3 linked regions of the Homo sapiens genome follow. The protein of the gene in region 3 purifies or fractionates together with the protein of the main gene of each other region. This does not show direct contact. Each region holds a gene or a part of one and is shown on either strand. Other genes may lie near its edges.

Evidence for each region. The genes of interacting proteins can lie anywhere in the genome.
Region 1: the proteins of CMKLR1 (region 3) and TMEM87A purify together in Homo sapiens (co-immunoprecipitation; 2 studies listed by BioGRID and IntAct, with this or other methods). This does not show direct contact.
Region 2: the proteins of CMKLR1 (region 3) and SC5D purify together in Homo sapiens (co-immunoprecipitation; 2 studies listed by BioGRID and IntAct, with this or other methods). This does not show direct contact.

What each region holds. Positions count from the first base shown.
Region 1 is NC_000015.10:42,270,412-42,278,121, reverse strand, and holds the start of TMEM87A (transmembrane protein 87A isoform 1 precursor), read left to right. Parts: upstream 1-4,688; 5' UTR 4,689-4,723; coding exon 4,724-4,867; exon of another isoform or gene 4,868-4,921; intron 4,922-5,056; exon of another isoform or gene 5,057-5,233; intron 5,234-5,998; coding exon 5,999-6,059; intron 6,060-7,710. Other genes in the region: GANC (neutral alpha-glucosidase C), read right to left, coding at 1,712-1,774, 3,612-3,640. UniProt on the Homo sapiens protein: Potential monoatomic ion channel gated by mechanical force, implicated in normal touch sensitivity through the generation of mechanically activated currents.
Region 2 is NC_000011.10:121,288,394-121,295,792, forward strand, and holds the start of SC5D (lathosterol oxidase), read left to right. Parts: upstream 1-4,377; 5' UTR 4,378-4,423; intron 4,424-4,458; exon of another isoform or gene 4,459-4,685; intron 4,686-7,399. UniProt on the Homo sapiens protein: Catalyzes the penultimate step of the biosynthesis of cholesterol, the dehydrogenation of lathosterol into 7-dehydrocholesterol (7-DHC).
Region 3 is NC_000012.12:108,329,310-108,336,331, forward strand, and holds part of CMKLR1 (chemerin-like receptor 1), read right to left. Parts: intron 899-7,022; 5' UTR 686-898; intron 1-685. UniProt on the Homo sapiens protein: Receptor for the chemoattractant adipokine chemerin/RARRES2 and for the omega-3 fatty acid derived molecule resolvin E1.

The DNA of each region.
Region 1 (7,710 bases), on a different chromosome or scaffold from region 3:
ATTAAATATAATCTAGTGGTTTAACAAGGTTACCAGGCATTCACTGTAGACTTCCCTCTAGATACCTGTTCAGAATTAACATAATACGCTTTTCTTCCTATTAAACAGAGAGGGAATATGTTAGAAAGCTATACTGTATAATACAATTTTTGATTATTTCAGTTTCAAGATCACGTAAAGACTGTTTTTTTTTTTTTTTTTTTTTTCAAATGAACATTATGGCCAGGCGTGGTGGCTCACGCCTGTAATCCCAGTACTTTGGGAGGCCGAGGTGGATGGATCATCTGAGGTCAGGAATTCAAGACTAGCCTGACCAACATGGTGAAACCCCCTCTCTACTAAAAATACAAAAAATTAGCCGGGCGTGGTGGTGCATGCCTGTAATCCCAGCTAGTCGGGAGGCTGAGGCAGAAGAATCGCTTGAACCCAGGAGGTGGAGGTTGTGGTGGGCAGTGATTGCGCCACTGCACTCCAGCCTGGGTGACAGAGGGAGACTCCGTCTCAAAAAAATGCATAAAAATAAAATAAAATGAAGATTTTAAAGGCATATTTTTTGTAGCTCTGGAGAAACAGGCAATCTTTTTTTTTTTTTAGACGGAGTTTCACTCTTGTTGCCCAGGCTGGAGTGCAATGGCACAATCTCGGCTCACCACAATCTCTGCCTCCCAGGTTCAAGCAATTCTCCTGCCTCAGCCTCCCAAGTAGCTGGGATTACAGGCATGCGCCACCATGCCTGGCTAATTTTGTATTTTTAGTAGAGACGGGGTTTCTGCATGTTGGTCAGGCTGGTCTCAAACTCCCAACCTCAGGTGATCCGCCTGCCTTGGCCTCCCGAAGTGCTGGGATTACAGGTGTGAGCCACCTCGCCCAGCCAGGCAATCTTATATAATGTTGATAGGAGTACAAATGGTATAATTCCTATGGAGGGAAATCTGGTAATAGTTAACACATTTCAAATGCATTTACTCTTTGACCCAGTAATCTCACTCCTAGAAAGGTATCCTATAAATACACCTGCATGTGTAGAAAATGACCTATGTATAGCTCTTCATTGTGGTAGTGCTATTTTAGCAAAAGATTAAAAACAACCCAAGGGTCTAGCAATAAGAGACAGACTGAATAAATTATATTAATAGTATATCTACCCCATGGAATATTATGCAGCTGTAAAAAGGAGAAACAATCTCCATGCACTCATATGAATTTCTCCTCAGAACAAACTATAAAGCAGGAAAAAAAACCTATTTGGTATAAAAAGGGGTGATTAAAAAAAGAGAAAAGCAATAATATAAAAATACATGTATTTACAAAAAAATACTGGAAGGATAAATAAGAAATGAAGAAATTCGGTTATTCGGGACAAGATGAGGAATGGGTAGAAGGGGACAGGAGTGGAAGCAACATTTTTCAATGTATAGCTCTTTATATTATTTTTGAACCATGTAAAAGTGTTATCTATTCAAAGCGTCAAAATTTAAAACTAGTTTAAAAATATTTTGGCTTTTAAAATAAAATAGCTGTTTATTGAAAAATTTAAATACTTCAGGAGTAAATGTATAAAGTTAAAAGTGAGTCTCCTGTCTGATGATTTCCTTAATTATTAAATTATCCTTTCCTTGGAAAGTCTATCAGTTCCAAAAATTTAATAAGCATCAATTTTGAAATACTGTCAGAGATGTTTTGATCTAGCTACTATATTTATTTTCCTTACCTGTAAAATGCGATCTTGTTACAGTCTCTGAAAATGTTTTTATCTACAGCTTCATCTTCAAGACTAAATAAAAAGACATTTTGAGAAATTTATTTCACACAGGGCTTGTGAATCCAACTTTTGTACCTTCTCTAACGACAGTATGAACATGCAAAATAAACCTTTGGAGTCTATTCTGCAATGCAAAATTGTGTCACGGCCACAGTATAACATAATAGCACATTATGTTGCAGAACAATAGCCTTTTGTAAACCCTCTGAGGTAAACAACAAAACATCAGGTTCTGGGATTACTCCAAAAGTAATGGGAAAAGATCACTGTCACTTATGAGGACATATTCTTTTGAAATAATGACTGAAGGCTATGACCACAAAAGTAAAATCTGAAGGAGGAAAACCAAAACAGCATCCCAAAACGAACAAACCAAAACCAACCAACCAGACAAACTAAGAACCATAACCCACCCACCGATTTATTCAAGAAAATATTTTCAGAATATTCTTCCTGAGAGCTGGGCTCTGAGGAAGATATGAACTGTGTTCAAGCTATCAGTTAGGGTTTTACCAGCAATCACAATACAAGCTGACAAATGCTTTAATAGAGGTGCAAGGTGCTAGAATAAGAACAGAACAGACGTAGAAGGGGAATTTCTTGCTTTTTAAGATGAGGTGACAAACTAGGGGCCATGTTTTTTAAAACCAAGTTTCCAGAAGAGCTGTTTCTGGGATAAAACATGAATGAGATATATGTATATTGAAGTTTGAGTATATGTATTTAAACTAGCCTCCATCTGATTAAAACAACTACAGATTATAAGGAGAAAAAAAAATTACACCGGCTTTCATGCACTAGTGTGGCCGAATGCATCTGTAGTCAGCATGTCCATGATTATGTAGAAAGCTATGACTGAACACAAACGTCGAAATATTATGAAAACAAGCCCAGGCAGATATACTTGGCCATACTAAAAAACTGTTTGTCCTTCACTGAACTCAGTCTTTGTCCGTTTATTTTAATTTATTAAAAAAATTTTTTTTGAGACAGGATCTCGCTCTGCCTCCTACGTTGGAGTGAAGTGGCACGATCTTGGCTTGCTGCAACTGCCGCCTCCTGGGCTCAGGCTATCTTCCTGCCTCAGCCTCCTGAGTAGCTGGGACTACAGGCCCACATCACCACGTCTGGCTAACTTTAAAATTTTTGTAGAGACAGGGATTCAGCATGTTGCCCAGGCTGGTCTGAACTCCTGGGTTCAAGCAATCTGCCCACCTATAGGCCTCCCAAAGTGCTGGGATTACAGGCATGAGCGAACCGGCCCAGTTTATTTTAATCAAGTGTACAAAGATTGGAGAATCTTTTGTTTCCTCTTTACAGCTTCGAAGAATTAACTCTGGGATGATATAGGAAGGGGTGATTATAGATGAATTTGGAAAGCAACATGCCTGAAATTCACGTGTTAAGAGTTCTGATTGCAACTTTTCCACTGTTAATGTTATTTAACCATCCTTTTTTTTTGGAGACAGGGTCTCACTTTGTTGCCCAAGCAGTGGCAAGATCACAGCTCCACTGCAGCCTCCAAATCCATCCTCCCAGTGGTCTCCCAAGTAGCTGGGACTCCGAGGGGGCGGGGAGGGGGTCTCGAACTCCTGAACTCAAGCGATCCTCCCACCTTAGCCTCCCAAAGTGCTGTGGGATTACCTGCGTGAGCCACTGCACCCGGCCTATTTAACCATCCTGAAAGTATTTTATGAGAGGCTATTAATATCAACTAACTTCCCGCGAATTGAGAGAAAAGATAAAGGTCAGCAAATACCAAATACGCAAATAAGAAATGCAATTAAAACACTATTCCCTGTTTCTAGGGACCCTGGGGTCACTCGCTACAGAAGCACTTGGCCTTTACCTTATTTCCTCTTTCACTGCTGCTTCCATGGCTTCTCTGTCACTCCGACCAGCTCCCAGCTCTCAGGACAAGGGCCCTGGGCGATCTTTTAAAAAAGCCGATTGGGTGTCTTTCTAAAATTACAACCAGTACTTCATCGTCAAGTTTCTGGGAAGGGAGTCCCCTCCAGATTCTCATGGAGTGACAAATCTTGACTCTTGCTCCTGGAATTTTTCAGGCCCAAACTAGCGTTTCTACAATGATTTATTTGGCAAATTTGTCTTGATTATGGGTGGCTGATGAGGAACGTGCTTTTGTTAGGAACCGAAACTGGGCGGCGGTGAGGGCGTGTACGCAATGAGTCCTAGAGGGTAAAAATCAAGAGCGTTAAGAACCTGGAAATGCCGAGACGGCCTCCCTGACTGGGACGAAGCATCTGCAGATCTATCTCAGTGGCGGGGTCACGCCACAGATTTTGAAAACTGACCCTCTCTGTCTCCGTTTTCGGTTAAGGGTGGGAAGTGCCGGCCGGGTCTTTGCTGGAGGCTAGGTCTCCAGCCAGATTGTACTGCAGCATCGTACTCTTCAGGGCTAGAAGGGGCCTTTGAAGGTTGTTACACTACCCAGTCTAGGAATCGCGTGTACTCCACCACCGCCGAATTCCAGCCTTTGCTTAAATACCACCCAAACCGGAGAACTCACTACTAGACGCCACTTGGGCAGCCAGGCTTAGGGCTTTTCCAGACTTTCTGGCCCCAAAGTCTGACATTGACTTAGAAGGGATGAAGGGCTGGGGCGAGCGGAAGTAGAGAGCCAAATCCTGCACGGGGTGCCTGCCTGGTCCTAAAACCTTTAACGGCTGGGAGACAGAAAAGACTCAGGCCAGGCTGGCATGTAGCGATCTCTCTAACCCAGCTGACCAGGTTCCAACAGGATGACGCCTGCGCAGTAGGTCCAAAGTCTCACGGCGCACAGACGACTGTCTGAGAGAGGGGCCGCTACGCCGCACAGCAAACAAGCTCCGCGACGTTTCCAGGACCCGGATAATCCCGCCCTTAGAGCAGAGCCGGAAGAAGGCGGGACGAACCGGAAGAGGGTGAAATGCTTTCGGTAGGCACTCCACGGCTGTGAAGATGGCGGCGGCTGCGTGGCTTCAGGTGTTGCCTGTCATTCTTCTGCTTCTGGGAGCTCACCCGTCACCACTGTCGTTTTTCAGTGCGGGACCGGCAACCGTAGCTGCTGCCGACCGGTCCAAATGGCACATTCCGATACCGTCGGTGAGTATTCACTTCACTAACGTCTGAACCTAGAGGAGCAAGGGGTGGGGCTACGGCGGCCCAAGGGGTCCATGAAGGTTCCGCAAAAGTCTCTTCAAAAGGGGTGGGGTTGCTGGGATGGTCTGTGTGGCTAGCCAACTGGGACCCACCTCCCTGGAGTGGAAAGCCGCGCACTTCTGTGATTAGGCTAGCGGGAATGTAAGGGCCACTTCAGCAACAGAAAGGAGTGGTGGAGCGGCTTCTCATCAGAAAAACAGAACTTTCAGTGCCTGACTTGAGATGTAAACTTGATGTACAAACGGAGAGTTGTTTATCTTTCAGATGTTTCACAGAATCCAGTGTCCCCGGGTTGGATAAGAAAGATATGTAAATAGGAGTCTTCATTTCTTTCTTTCTTTTTCTTCCTCTGCACTTCTTGGTCCCTGGGTAATTCTGCTTACGAGATGGTTCGACTTCGCTTCAACTTTGGAATGGCTATTCTAAGCTTTACTGTGTGACTAGAAAGCATAGAGATTTAAGAAATGTGTTTTAACATGGGAATGGTTAAAATTGAAGAAATAGTACTTAAAATTTAATGTGGTAAGGCTAGTCTTTCATTTGGATAATTAACTACATGGGTTGACCCTTTCTGCCCCTTACCCATTTTAAACCTTATTTCAGTAACAGGTATAGTCCTGTGAGCAGACAAAAACCAGATGCAGGGAGGAAATGCTGAAAAGCATTAGCCCCATTAAACCTACGTTGGCCTTTTTGTTTCATTCTGCTCTGCTCACTGACTGTAATGTCCAAATCTTATTTGGGCTTTTATTATGGTAAACGTTATACCTTTTGTTCAGTGGTGAAGATTTTCAGGTGTTCAGTTAGGTTTTTACTTGTTACTAAAATGGTTAATAGTTAAGTCTTTTTAGATTTGAAAATAAAACTCTGGTTATTTGCACACAGAATAGTTCATTAGAAAAAATGATTGGTTATTCTGAGCAGTGATTGGTGAGTAAAGGGAATGAACTGATTAAGGGGTACGTCCCATAAAGATTTAAGTTAAGTTGGAATTTCTAGCAGTCTTAGATAGTTATATGATGCTTTGGTAATTGAAGCCATCTGAGGCTAATTATCTTTCCTTTATGTTTGCAGGGGAAAAATTATTTTAGTTTTGGAAAGATCCTCTTCAGAAATACCACTATCTTCCTGAAGTGTGAGTTTTTGAATTTCATGAAGTTTTAATTTGAATTTTAAAAATTTATAGGTAATGTTTTAAATTACCTATTTTATAAGTTCTGAAATCTAATAGTCTGGCATTATCTAGGTATAAATATTTTTAGTATTACTAAGGTCCTTTTACTGAATCATCTTCAAAGTACTCGTGTGAACTTTATTTTCTTCTCTTGTTTTTCTGGTGTTTACATTGCATATATACACTATGTAGACATTATATATTAGTATATATAATGTATATATTAATATATATGCTGTATATACTACATTGAATATTCAGTCACATCTCAGTCGAATTACATTTACAGTTGATACTTTCTGAGAAAAGCATCCTTAGGTGATTTTGTCATTATGCAAACATCATAGAGTATACTTAAAACTGGATGGCACTACACGCCTAGTTTGTATGGTACAGCCTATTGCTCCTAGGCTATAAACCTGTATAACATGTTACTGTACTGAATGCTATAGGTGGTTGTAACACAATGGTAAGTTTTTGTATATCTAAACATAGGAAAGTAGAGTACAAATACGATATTACAATTTTATGGGACCCCCGTTGTATATGTAGTCTTTCATTTACTGAAATGTTATGTAGTGAATGACTGTGATTATGTTGGGGTTGATTCCCTGCATGGTGGTTTTAATCTGTTCTGTGTAGATTAAAGAGGTTTTACTCTTGTGTGCTTGTTAAATGTTTACTGCAAACATGACCTAGGTTTGTCAGGCCGTTGGCTGTGAAGGAATATATTTAGTAGATCCTTTATTTACAAAAGGAGTATTTTACTGCTTTGGAAGAGGAAGCTCAGATATTATCAAGAAATAGGGATTATGTAGAACAAAACTAGTTTGTCTAGTGGAAAAATGACTGTATCTGAATCTAAAGTATCCCATTGTGTGTTCAGTAAAAGCTTCCTTTTAGTTCTGAAACCGGCTTTAATTTAGAGAACGATTGATCGTGGGCAGCTTTATTTCTAGATGAGGGATAAAAATCCTGATGATAGATGTGTGATTCTATGCATACTGTCTTCACGGAAGTGCAAAATTTTAAGTCATAGTTGGATAATTTTATTCTTTTCAATTGTTTAGTGAGTAATTATTACTTATTGCATAGACTGTGGGGAAGTAATAGAAAAATGTTCTTCCCTCATCGAGCTTACATTCTAGTGGGAGTGAAAACAGCAGGTAGAATTTCTCTGAAGAATATATACTGTATCCATGAATATGTAATCAGTCTCCTGACCAGTGACTTATATTTGATTTAGATCAAATCTACTCTGACACTGGCCTTGTGAGATTGGTTTACTGGGTAACCTAGTAACCCTTGTCTTTTGGAATAGCTTGACAGCCTGTTTGCTGTTTTATTCTTTTATTAGGTCCAGTCTTTTTTTCTCGTGTAGTTTGATCTAGTGGTGTTTTGCCAAGTTAAACCAACTGCATTTTTTTTAAGATGGTGTCTCACTCTGTCACCCAGACTGGAGTGCAGTGGTACGATCTTGGCTTACTGCAACCTCCACCTCCCAGGTTCAAGCGATTCTCCTGCCTCAGCCTCCCGAGTAGCTGGGATTACAGGCATGAGTCTCTATGCCCAGCCCTAACTGCGTATTTTGAAGTGTTTATATTTCATTGTT
Region 2 (7,399 bases), on a different chromosome or scaffold from region 3:
AAGTACTGTTAACTTAAAAATTATACAATTTATAAATTTAAGAAAGGAGAGAAGAATTTATTTCTTATAAAGTGTTGCAGCCTGCAAGGTGACCAACCCACAGGCTGGGAAGTGTGCCTCCAGCCGAGACCAGAGATAGGCACTTTGAAGAAGGAGGGGCTGGAGTAGGAGCTTTATGCTGAACAGGTTGGCTAAACATGCATGTTTTACAGGAGGAGCTATGAATATTCATGAAGCTGATCCTGACATGCATATTGAACAAACATGCATGTAACATATGACCATGTTCACTTTAGGATGGAGAGTTAACATTTAAATATATTACAATTAGGCCCTATATGTCAAAATGTTTTTTCAGGACATGAAGGCATATAGATGTGCAACTTCTGTAAACTGATCAGAACCAGCCCATGGGTCAGTGGTATTCTTATCAGGAGAAAGTTATTAAAACCAGTCTTTATCCAATGAAAGCCGTAGTTGTGGCTTGTGGAATAGGGGGTCAGTTAGCGTCTGGTGGAGCTGCAAATTGTTTTAATATTGCTTATCTGAAGGCCAGTGTTTGTTTAGCTGCTAGAGAAAAAGAAAAATCTTGTGACAGTTAGAACATAGTTTATTCTTTACGTGTAGGGTACATGACTTAACCCTCGCCTGGCACGACCTTAGGTCCTATTTATAATTTGGTATTGTATCGCCACAAAGAATCTGTTCTGCCAGTTTTATGATTTCTGTTTTAACATCAATGCCGGTCAGTCGTGTCTAAAAAGGGAGGGGGTATAATGAGGCCTGTCTGACCTCATCTCATCATGGCTGGGAACTAAGTTTTTAAGGCTTTTCTGGAATCCCTTTGGCCAAGAGGTGGTCTGTTCAGTCTGCTGGGGGGTTTAAGATTTTATTTGTAGTTTAAAGTATCATACTATAAATTAAAATAGAATCCATGGGGCCAGGTTAAGGAATAAACACTTTCTCTTCCTGTAATCTACTTTTGGACACTTGTGCATCCACCTTTTTCATGAAGATTCTCTTCTCCCTAAAAAATAAATTCATGCAAACAGATGCTTGTGAGCCAGTGGCCCAACGAGTTCATCAGAAACATTCACTCTAAATAGCTTGGTGCCTAGTGTTCTTAGTACAGTCCAGTGTGATGTAATGAAGAGAGGTTGATACATTACTGATGCATTCAGTGACAACATTTCATTAAGAAGGCTGTTCTGTTTTACACATCTGAAAACCAGTTAGAAAGTGACATGATTTGGATGTTTCCTCCCCTCCAAATCACGTGGTGAAATGCGACCTCCAATGTTGGAGGTGGACTGAGTGGGAGGTGTTTGGGTGTTGGGGGCAGATCCCTCATGAATGTCCTGGTGCTGTCCTCACAGTAAAGTGAGTTCTCACTCTATGAGTTCACATGAGATCTGGCTGTTTAAAAGAGCCTGAGTTTAAAAGAGAGAGCCTCCTCCCTCTCTCTTGCTCCCTCTCTTCATGCGATAGGCCTGCTCCCCCTTTGCCTTCCACCAGGATTGTAAGCTTCCTGAGGTCCTCTCACCAGAACCAGATACCAGCACCACACTTCCTGTACAGCCTGCAAAACTGTGAGCCAAAATAAACCTCTTTTCTTTGTAAATTACCCAGTATCAGGTATTCCTTTATAGCAATGCAAACGGACGAATGCAGAAAGAAAGGGTCTTCATTTCCTAACTTCAGAAACTACAGTCTTTGTAGTTTCCTTTGTAGTACCTTTGTAAAGACAAAGGTCTTTAAACAGTTTAGTGCTTAGTGTTCTCATTAAAGTATAATGTTATATAATGAACGTGGGCTGATAAATTATTGATGCATTGAAAGGCAACATTTCATTGAAAAAAATTCAAACTCAATCTCAGTTTAGAATCTTCCAAGTGAATGAGGACTTCTAACTCTGTTCAGGTCAAATGTAGCCCTCTCAGAGAAACTGACTGACCATGCTGTCTGAAGTTAACAGCTTCCGTTAATTTTGATTCTCTTACCCCATTTTCTTTTTCTTCATAGCACTGTCCGACATTGTATTATATATCTATTTATTTATTATCAGTTTTCTGTCTCCTTACTAGTGTGTAAGCTTCATTAGAGCAGACTTTGTTTTGATTATCAGTATATCTCCTGTGCATATGACAGTGCCTGACACTTATCACCATTACATAATGATTTATTGAGTAAATAAATTGAGTAATTTAATGATTAAATGGTTTGTTTCCATGTTCATGTTCCATCCAGACACATAGGCAGGTATTGTGGCTTATCTCTGAATTCCTTGGTACTGGCTGGTTGGTACCATAGACCCTTGCAAACAATGAATAAATAAATTACCCTGATCCATCAGTGTGCCTGGATAGAAAAGACATGTAGGAATGCTGCACCCCAGGATGTGCTATTAATACACTTATACACCACGGAATACTATGCAGCCATAAAAAAAAGAATGAGTTCATGTCTTTTGCAGGGACATGGATGAAGCCGGAAGCCATCATTCTCAGCAAAATAACACAGAACAAAAAACCAAACACCACATATTCTCATTGAGTATGTGGGAGTTGTTCAACTGTGGGAGTTGAACAATGAGAACACATGGACACAGGGAGGGAAACATCACACACCGGGGCCTGTCAGGGGGTGGAGGGCAAGGGGAGGGAGAACATTAGGACAAATAACTAATGCATGCAGGGCTTAAAACCTAGATGACGGGTTGGAAGGTGCAGCAAGCCACCATGGCACATGTATACCTATGTAACAAACCTGCACGTTCTGCACATGTATCCCAGAACTTAAATAATAATTAAAAAATACACTTAAATTTATTTTTAAACAAGATTGTTCTCTTGAGGTTAACTTATTACTACTTTGAGTTGTCAGGAGTGATTGCAAATTTCTTGGGAATCCCTAAGTCACCAAGAATAAAGACCACTTGTAATAGCTAAGGCATATTCAACAATAAAATTCTAGAGATTCAGGATATTTGATGTTTGCTTATAACATTTCACTTTTGAGCTTTTATTCGTTTAATAAATGTTTTATCATCTATGCTCAATAACATTTTAAAGTGTCCATTCAAATCATTTCATTGGGCAAAACAATGTTCCTTCCCTAATTTCCCTCATCAGAATAGCCATTTTGTCTCTGTGCTCAGCCTATACCACCAATTACTGTTTATTTCCTGTCCTTGTAATAAGCAACATAGTTATTTATACATGCCCATTTCTCCCACAGCACATAAGCTTTTTAAGGTTGGGAACCATGTCTTTGTCATTATTGTAACATCTCTTTCCATTCCCGGTGTTCAGTACGATGTGTTAAACGAAGTAGACACTCAAAACTTTTTAAAATTTATTTTTATTTATATAATGAGTCTTTTTTAAAAAAACCACCTACACTATTTTAAATTCATTTGAACTTTGTCCAGTATCCTATGTACATTTGAAGTTTAACTACCGGAAAAGTCTTTTGAAGGCAGATCGAATCATGTTATTTTTTTCCCTTAAAAATCCCTCATTTCTGTCATGTATTCCCCATATTATTTATGTAATAGGTAAAGTGGCCCAGTTTGCCACTTTGAAGTTGCTGAGCTGGTATCACAAGTCAGTCCCCTCTGTTTTAATCTCTGTTTAAGGAAAGTCACTCTGAAACGACAGATCTTTTGGTTCCTTATTTCTGCTTTCCTCCGTCCTCTTCTGCCTGTGAAGCCACCCTCCTCTGCTCAGCTCTGTTTCAGGAAATCGGAGCTGCTCGATTCATGTGTAGCAAATCAAAGCCAATTAGATCTGCGTTAACCTTGGTTTTCAACAACTTGTATCGTGAAAAGGTTTCTGTCCATGTTTACCCTCATCTTGTCACCATTTAGACCCCTACATACACCGGCTCGCGGAGCCTCCAGCCATTCAGCGCTAGAAAATCGGGGGGACTACGTCTTAAAACCTTGAGCACCTGTTTGGGAACATCTGCACCTCCTCCCTTGAGGGAGAAAACGACCCAGACATTCGCGTCAAAGGAAGTGTCGTCTATTTCCCTCAACGCAGGGCACCCGTTCTAGGAATGTTTGTATAAACACCGTAAACCTGCCTGGTACCACCATGAATGACACAAGAGCTAGTTTAAAAAGAAAGCAAAGAAACAAACGCAAAACCCGAAACCGCATCCTCCACCGCAAAGGTACTCGGATGGGGCGCCCGCCCTCCCCTTAGTCAGAGGACAAAGGGGGCGTGGCCGAGCGCGCGGCGCCCACGTGACCGCGGAGAGCTGCGCGCAGGCCCTTCGCGCGATCTGCCGTCATATCAGCTTATGGCGCCGGTCGCTGATTGGCTGGCCGCTCCAGCCTCCCGGCCCGCTTGCTGGCTGCCCAGCTGCTAGGACAGTTTGCAGAGCAGTGGCGTGCGGAGCGGCGGCGGACCACCTCCAGGTGGGGACGGTGGGTGGGCGGGGAAGGAAGCGGAATACACCTGAGCGGGCTGGGCCGGGGGGCGATGGAATAAAAGAAGATGGAGAGACTTCAGCGCCTGGGACTCGGGTGGGCGAGGCGGAAGGTGTCCTCGCAGCACGGCTTTTCTCCGCGCCGCGGTTGGTTAGCGAGTGCCCTCTGGGTGCTAGGCGTTGGGCGGATGGTAGGATCGCGGTAGCATACGGATCCGAGTCCTGCGCCGAGTGAGAGGAGAGGCTGGCAGGTAGCCTGGCATCCCGAAGACTGGCGGCGAGGGCTGGGCCGGGGGACCTCGGGGCCTGGAGGGCTGCGCCACCTGGGAGTCCGGGCGGAGGGGCCTTCCGCTCGCGCTGGGAGGGATCGCGGGGCCGATAGGGAGGCCTGGACTTGAAGGAGCCGACCGTGGACGGGCTTAAAGAAAATGCAGTGTTTGATGTTGGGTGTTGCAGATCTCTTACTCAAGGGAATTCTGGTCTGGCTGCTGAACACGAATGCTTTACTTTTCCCTTCGTTCTGGGAGGGTTTTTTTCTTTTAAAGGCCAGAAGAATCAGGCTGAAGAACTGGTCGGTATCAGAACTCCTGACCATTGCAAGCCTCTGTTGCTGCGGCGTAATTAGAATGAAGGGACAGCAATCTGGGGCTGAGGAGACTGAAAGGAAAAGGGAAATAATCTGTTCCTTTTGCATCATAAAAGGAAAAATAATGTATACTGACATCCCTGTGTTACAGCAGAGTAGATTTGGAGGTGGTGTAAGTGAAGAAAACAAGACCTCAGTACATAGAGTTTCCAAACTGGAAAGTTTGTGGCAGCTCGGTACTTTTAGAGGAAACCCTCTGGAAGTTATTTGTCTTTATATCACTATCATTTTTTAAAGTTTCTAATGATTGATACCTAGTAAATAATAACTGATCCTTGATCATTTACAGAGTGCTTTTCCATTCGTTATGTAATGTAATTAATTAGCATGGGGTGGTACTCAGAATCCCTCATCTGCATATAAAACATCTTGAGAGATAACATAACGTGGTAGCAAAGAGAAAGGTTGTGGAATGTACATCCCAGCTGGTTTTTTCTGTTATTGTTGCTTGCTACTGAACAAGTTATTTAAATACTCTGACCTCAGTTTCCCTATCTATAAAGTGGGGAGCATAGAAGTACCTATCTCATAGAGGTATAGGGATTAGATGAGGTTATACAAAAATAATACCTGGTTCTCAATAAATATTAGCTATCATTTTCTATACTTTTAAAGTAGGGCAAAAAGATAATGGTAGACTGAGTTGTTCTAAGCCTAATATTGTTATTATAACTGAGTTTTAAGAAGAAGTTTCTTTAATTCTGCAAGGACAAAGTATTTAAGTTTCTGTTTGAAGCAGTGGTACTTAATTTAGGGTCCTTGGGACCCCTAACTTCAGGGCTTATAACCCCTTAAAATTATATGAGCTTGTAGAGGCACTGAACATTTTTAAAAATTCAGGAGTTGACGACTTGAAGTAGTGGTGAAGAGGCTATAGAACTTGGCAGAAGTTCACGTACTTTGCAACTAGATTGTGTGTATTTGAATCCTAGCTCCAGCATTTATTTACTCTTATGACCCTATGCAAGTTACTTAAAATTTCTGTGCCCAGCTTCTTCATCTATAAAATAATACTAGTACCTACCTTTGAGGCTTCTTGAAAGGGAAAATTAGTTAATATATTTAAAATATTTATATTACCTAGTATATATTAAATATTACTATCAACTACTGTCAGTTATTTTTCAAACAAAAATCAAGTGGCACCTATTTTATCTTCTATTGAAGTAATTTTGACGCATTTTTGACGGCCTTAACAGTGATAATCATATAGATGCTATTTTATTGAGTACCTTTCTTGGGTCAAATGTCAAAAGTCTACTTAGTCTCTAAACCTCACAGCAATCAAACATGTTTGTGTTCTTTTTGGTTGCACGATACTATTCTAGGTATTGTATTGAAGTAGGGCCACATGGCACTGTGGGGAACATGTAGATTGGCTCATCAGCTGTTACCAACCTTTAGTGATATAGCAATATCCTTTTCAATTATTAAATGTTTATGTTATCTGATATTACGTAGTACCCTGTCCCTGCTACACCACCTCCCTTGGCAGTCTTCACCCCTATAACTTCAACTACTACCTGTATACTAACCAGGCTCGCTTTTGAACTTCACATTTATATTTACATGTGGCCTATTGCTTATATCTAAGATAGAAGATGAGCCACAGATAATTAGGTTTTAAGATCTACATTGAACCCGTTTTGAACCCCAGATATCTGAGACAGGTCTCAGTCAATTTAGGAAGTTTATTTTGCCAAGGTTAAGGATTCACCCGTGACACAGCCTCAGGAAGCCCTGACAATATGTGCCCAAGGTGGTCGGGGACACAGTTTGCTTTTATACATTTTAGGGAGACATGAGACATCAATCAATATGTGTAAGAAGTACATTGGTTGGGTCTGGTAAGGCGGGACAACTCACAGTGGGGGCTTCCAGGTTAGAAGCAGATAAGAGACAAAGGTTGCATTATTTTGAGTCCTTGATTAGCCTTCCACTGAATGCACACATTTCGTCTGGCTCAGTGAATCTGCATGTTTACATAAACAATAGGGCAGAGGAAGCAATCAGAAATCCATTTGTGTCAGGTGAGCCTCAGAGGGATGACTTTGAGTCCTGTCTGTCCTTTATCCACAAAGGAATTTTCTGAGGGCAAATTGTGAGGGAGGGATGTAGCTTCTCATCCTTGTAGCTGTCTTATTTAGGAATAAAGCGGGAGGCAGGTTTGCCTAACATAGTTCCCAGCCTGACTTTTCTCTTAGCTTAGTGATTTTGGAGTCCCAAGATTTATTTTCTGTTCACACCATCATTCCTTACCCACCCCCTATTCCTACCCTACCCAAATCTGCTAGCTCTGCCAGTATTCCCTATTTCAAT
Region 3 (7,022 bases):
AGACTCCCTGCACTCATCAAGTCTCTGGATCTGTGTTCATGCAGCTCTCCCTGCCTAAAATCTCTCTCATGTCTAGCCAACTGCTCCTATAAGCAACTGAAGGCCAATTCACCCTTTGAACCCAGCTCGAATATATGCTTCCTTCTCGAAGCACTATTTCCTGGCTTCCCCAGTGAAAGCTACCTCCACTTCACTCCTGCAGTACTTTGCACACTAAATGTATCAAGCAGGCATAAGTGGGAGGGTATTTAACAATAAGCACTTGGTAAAAATGGCCCAGTAGTCACTTACTGTTCTGAATGGATGATGAATGGAATCATCATGGGTGACTGTGACCTGTGAGCAAAATTTGCCCCAAGCAACCAACATTAAAGCCAACCTTCTGGCTAGATGGGCCTCCACTCTGTCTGTTTACTCACCTGTCTCCCACTCAACAGGAGCTCCCTGTATCCCATGCTCCTAGCACACAGTTAGTGCTCAGTAAATGCTTGTGAAGTGAACAGAGGCTCCTTTAAACAAATCCTTTTTGAGTTTCAGTTTTCCCATCTGAAAAATGGGAGTGTAGTCTAACTTAGGGTGACAAATGATTATCTCAGATGGCCACTGTCATTCGTTGTTTTAAGATGAAGATGGTAGATTGTCTTTAAAGATAGACTCTAACATCCCACCCTGCCCCAATACTCACATGTCACGCCTCCCATCAAGAAGTGGACTCTATTTCTCCTCCCCTTGAATCTGCACTGGCATGGTGAGTTGCTGTGACCAACAGAAAGTGGTAGAAGTGATGCTGTGCTAGTCCCAGCCTAGATCTCTAGATGCCATCAGCTTCTGCTATCATTGTTGCAGAGCCCTGAGCCTCCTGGTAGAAAAATCCAAGCAGTTCTGCTGGAGAGATGGGCTACAGAGAGAGAGAAAGAGAGAAACAGAGCACACAAGTTCCAGGATGTGAGATCATCTTATATATCCCAGCCCCAGTCAAGCTCCCAGCTGAATGCAGCCCATGAGTAACGCAGCCAACACTATGTGGAGCAGAGATGCACTGTCCCTGCAGAACTCTGCTAAGTTGCATAATTATAAATGAATAAGTCAGTTCAAGCCACTAAATTTGGGGGTGTTTGATCCACAAAGATAAATGACAAAGACATCTGGGTTCAACTAGAGGAAAAGTCATGACTGATGTGTGATGTCTGCCACAGCACATGGTGAGGGGTGTGGACTTCCATCCCTGGACTAGATCATGTCAAGGTCAGTGCCAATTCAATTCAATGCCAATTCGTGATTCTTCTGGGACCTTCTAGAAATGCAAGTTCCAGATTCAGAGGGAATCCATCCACCATCAGAGAGAACCCCAGCAGGGATCCAGTGGGGACCCTGGAAGGATTACATGAACCAATGAGGTAGCCCCTCTTGGGGCATATAAACAGTGACTTGGAAATAAAGTAGAGCAGTTGGTAGCAGGACTGGGAGCAGAAGGAGGTAGACATAGGAGACACTGAGCCCCATTGATAGTAGAACAGCTGAATGGGGGCTGCAGGCTCCTGCAGCCTAGGGGACAAAGATAATCCAGCCCTCAAGCCAACACATATCCCAAGAGCCTTCCAGGTCAAACACAAGGCTGGCTGGGCAGCTGGCACCTTCTCCCCTCCTAGTTAGCATCCACATCCTCAAAAATGAACCTCCTCTCTTACAGGGGGGAAGAGAAGGAGCCCTTGTGCTCCTTGCAGCCCATGAGCCAGACAAGCATGTCTCCCTAGCATGGGGCAGAGACAGAAAGGTTCTCATAACTAGAAATCACCAGTACCTGGGATGGAGAGACTCAAGCTGGGAAGTTAAACTCCTGGGGGATCATTCATTCCTGTTGAGCCTCCTACCAGGTGCCAGACACTTAACTCTTACTATCTCCTTCCATCCTAACTACTACCCTATGTACAACATGCCGCCATCCCCATTTCACAGATGGGAGAACCCCCTCGTTCAGAGTCAGCAGGTTCATAAGTGCAGGGACGTGAACGCAGTCTAAATGATGCCAAAGTCTGGTTCCTGGTTCGGTCCTGATAATCACTGAATACTCCCTGGTAAAGCCTCACTGGTTGCTACACTTGCATCCATTCTAATTGGTCAATACTCTGCTGAACCAACTGTCAATAGATGGCCACCTGAACTCCCAATATCTAAATTCGAAATTCAAGAAACAATCAGATGCAGACCAATGTCACTGTTAGACAGAATAACAGATCCCCAAAGATGTCCACATCCTAATCCCCAGAACCTGTAAATATGTCATCCTACATGGCAAAAGACACTTTGCAGACGTCATTAGGAATCTTGAGATGGTGGGATTATGCTGGATTACCCAGGTGAGCTCAGCGTCTTTAAAAATGAGACAGAGAGGCAGGAGAGTCAAAGTGATTTGATGTGACGAGGACTCAACCTGCGGTTGCTGGCTTTGAAGGCTGGGGAAGGGGACCATGAGTCAAGGAATGTGGCAGCCTCTAGAAGCTGGAAAAGGAGGGCAAACAGATTCTCCCCTAGGGCCTCCGGAAGAGATGCAATCTTTGATTTTAGCCCAGTGAAACCCATTTGGGACTTCTGACCTCCAGAACTAATAAGATAATAAGTTTGTGTTGTTTTAAGCCATTCGGTTTATGGTTATTGTTATAGCAGTAACAGGAAACATATACACTTGCTACCTGAATTCTTACTTCATATAACACTCAGGAATTCATAGATTCTGATAACTGTTCAAACCAATTCAGGTAACAAAGGATGGGCATTTGAGTGTCCCCTGCCCTTATTCCCCACCCCAAGTCATTTACTGAGCACCTACTCCAGGCCAAAGAACATGGCAGACACTCTCTCAACAACCCTGGGCAGGAGGAAACTGAGGCCTAAAGAGGTTATATGTATGTGACTTGCACATGCTCACAAAAACAATAGGTGGCCGGGCTCACCGCAAAAACATGCGGTGGCTCATGCCTGCAATCCTAGCACTTTGGGAGGCCAAGGCAGGTGAATCACTTGAGTCCAGGAGTTCAAGACCAGCTTGGGCAATGTGGTGAGACCCTGTGTGATGGTTAATACTGAGTGTCAACTTGATTGGATTAAAATATAATAAGTATTAATCCTGCATGTGTCTGTGTGGGTGTTGCCAAAAGAGATTAACATTTGAGTCAGTGGGCTGGGGAAGGCAGATCCACCCTTACTCCGGTGGGCACAATCTAATTAGCTTCCAGAGACTATAAAGCAGGCAGAAAAACCTGAAAAGGAGAGACCGGCCTAGCCTCCCAGCCTACATCTTTCTACCATGCTGGATGCTTCTTGCCCTCGAACATCGGATTCCAAGTTCTCCAGTTTTGGGACTCAGACTGATTCTCCTTGCAGATGGCCTATTGTGTGACCTTGTGATCATGTAAATTAATACTTAATAAGCTCCCCCTTTTTATATGTAGAGAGTGAACCGTAAGAGAACCCTCTAAGAGAACCCTGACTAATACATCCTGTCTCTACAAAAAATACAAAAACTAGCCAGACATGGTAATGCATGCCTATAGTCCCACCTACTCAGGAGGTGGGAGGATTACTTAAGCCCCAGAGGTCGAGGCTGCAAATGAGCTGTGATCATGTCACTACACTCCAGCCTGGGTGACAGAATGAGATTTTGTCTCAAAAAATAAAAAATAAATCAATAGGTGTCAAACCCAGGATTAGAACTCACATCTGCCAGACCACAGGGCCTGCCCTCTTCTCACTACACCACACCCTCTCTCCATTGACTTCCTGTTTCTCTGACCCCTGATTTCCAGGAGGAAAAACCAAGTGTGCTCACTGTTGTTTTTTGTACCCATCTCCCCACCCACCCACCTCCTTGCACAAGAGCTGCCCTCAGCAGGAACCCAGGGCTGGAATCTGAGGACCCATGTCCTATACCCCAAGAAAGCAGAACCGATTCTGACATTCTGCCTGGATAGCAGCTGACCTCCCTGCTGAGTCAGCCGCTGGTACTTCCAACATTGCCAGAGACTGTCTATGGTGAAGACAGTGAGGCCCAGGGCACTCTCCACCAGCAGAGCCCAAGACCTCTCCTTGGGGCCAGACATGGAGGCAAGAGACTAGCCCAAATGACATTTTCCAGTCTGGGAACCCAAGATCACAAGGCACCAGACACCCAGATGTGCAAAGGCCAATTTCAAAGCTCACTGTCCCAAAAATAAAAATAGAAATGCCTTCACTGAACTGACCACGTGCTGTACTCAGTGCTTGATGGATATGGACTCATTTAATCTCACCATAACCCTGACAGGCAGGTACTCATAGCATGCCCACCTTATGAATGAGGAAGCTGAGGGGCTCAGGAGGTTAAAGTTCAGAGCTGGGATCTCAACTCTGGAGCACTTGGATCTGGGATCTATCATCACCACAGTGTGCTACCAGCCAACGTCACCCAGACGTCAACATTTCTTTCTCTGATAGCACCACGTAGAATTACTGCCTCTTGATTCCATCTGACAGTGCAAGGATTTCTACTTTTTCTCATTCATACCTGTGTCCATTGCTGCAAAAATCTAGAGGTTCTAAAAAGAAATAACTGGTTTCGTGCTATCGCCTGAAACCAGCATGTCCTGAGTCCGGCGGCAGCTCAAAGTGGCTGCCAATAACAGGGGCTCCTCACTGCATCTCAGTCCTGGCCTACGGCCACCTCCTCAGCAGGGGCTATGGAAAAAGTGCTGGGCTGGAAGCCAGGTGTTTCAAGTCCTAATCTGGCCAAATGATCTTGGGAATGTCACGTAACCAATCAGGGCCTCACTTTCCTCATCTCTCAAATGGGTTCCACAAGGATAGGAATCCTGTCTTTCCATCGTTCTTGCCCTGTGGAGAGCCAGACGTGTAGTAGATGCTAATAAATGTTTGTTGAGTGAATTAATAAAAGTATATGTTACAAGTTTGTCTCTCCTCCCCTGAGGGCCTCAAAGACAGGAAGCAGGTCTGATTCATCTCATTTTCTCACAGTGCTGCAGCTGTTACTCCCACATGCATTTATTCACACAGGAAAGTGCTCCCAGGCACCCACTATGTGGCCAGCCCAGTTGAAGCCTCAGTGTCTTCCAGGACCACACAACACCCTCATGCACTGTCCCTTCTCTTTTACACAGCCAGTGGCTGTAATACTTGGTCACACTGTACTTCTTCACCCCAGGACCTAGGACAACCACCCAGCTGCCTTACAGTCAGCAGCCTTGGCCCATTCTGGGGAGTTTGAGCATGATTCCTGAGCTTTCACTTCCCTCATGCCCAGCCCTGGGGGAGCCCAGCCCAAGGAAAATCCCGACTCTAACCACACCATGTACACGTACATGAACACCAACATTCAAATGTGCAGTGGGGCCCTAGGACAGGAATAAGATGTTTTTCGTTCAAATCCCATTCTTTTGCTATGAGCTGTGTGACCTTAGGCAAGTCCCTTTAGCTCTCTGAGCCTCATTTTATTCACCTATAAAATGGGGATGATAGTCCTGAGGCCTTTCCATGTAGGCTTGTAGGGAGATTCAAGTAGATAATGGATATAAATACCTTTGGCTTAATAACCCGCAGCATGTTCTATCAAACCATTATTCTTATTTCCTTTTTCCAGGGGGAAAAGAGAATGGCAGTTGCCTATGTTTCAGAAAAATCCATGTTTAGGGGCCTGGAGTCTGGAAATTTACTTAGTATATTTGATGGGAATTACCTTGAGGATAGGTGATGTTGTGAGTCCAACATCACCATGTTAACTAAGATTGACTAATGGAAATGTAGACTTAGAATCAAAGAATGGAAGCAACCCAAGAGGTCACCACATTTGTGACAGAGACAGGTAGCTGTCCACAAAAATTCATTCTCCCTGTCCACAATACACGACTGTGGCTGGGAAAGAGCTGCTCTTTGCCAAGAACCTCATATCCTTGTAACTCCATGTCCTGGCCTCCTTTGCAACTAGATTGGCCACATGATAGTTCTCATGTGAGTGGAAGTCATGTCTGCTGCTTCCAGGCCAAAGCAGATAAGCAAATATGCCACCTCCATACTTTCTTTTGTCTTGTGCACCTGGCTGCAGACAATGAGGATATCTGAGGAGAGAGTGGGACCACCAGATGAGTCACTGAAGTACCATGAGGAAGAGGACCACCCTCCATTCAGAAATACTTGCCTTATAATAAAGCTCTGCTTTGCTTCAGCCCTTATGCCTTTGGGGACCTATTTGTTACTGCAGCTACTACCCTAGCTGATATACCATTCGACCTCCTTATTTACAGATGAAATTATTGTGGCCAAAGAGTAAGAGTGCCTTGCCAAGGTCACACAGTAAGCTCAACAAATGTCTAGAACTTTGGTCTCTTAACTCCTTGGAGTAGAGGAGTTGCAGTTTCCTGCCTGCCCCATGGAGCTACAAAGATTCTTAGAGGCCCTTCAGCAACAAGAGTGAGATTTAGTGGCAGCCTGGAGTCTTCCACCTCTGTTTCAACAAGAATAACACCACCTTTATCTGTTTTCAAATTACACTTCCCCATAAGACTTTCATTTGTGGAAAGGATTCTGCAACTGAAAATAATTTCAAAGCCTCCATGCTGGGGGATTGCTAACACGATCTGACTTTCTGTGGTACTATAAGACAAAGTTTCGCTTCTTCTCTGCCAAACCTTCTGGCCTCAACTGCTGACACGGAACATGTGGATTCACAGAAGTACATGAATATTTGCTTAGAAGGGAAAAAAGAAACCTTATTGTGCAGCAAAGAACCCAAGACCCCAGTGTGAACAAAGGGCAAAAAGGAAAGACTTTTAAGCACTCTAGGTTGGTAGTTCTCAAGTTTTGGGGTGCATCTGAATGACCTGGGGTGCTGGTTCAACATGCAGACACTGAAGCCTCATCCACAGAGATTCTGATTTCCAAACTGAAGCTTTAAGAAACACTCACAATTGGCCGGGCGCAGTGGCTCACGCCTGTAATCCCAGCACTTTTGGAGGCCGAGGTGGGTGGATCACAAG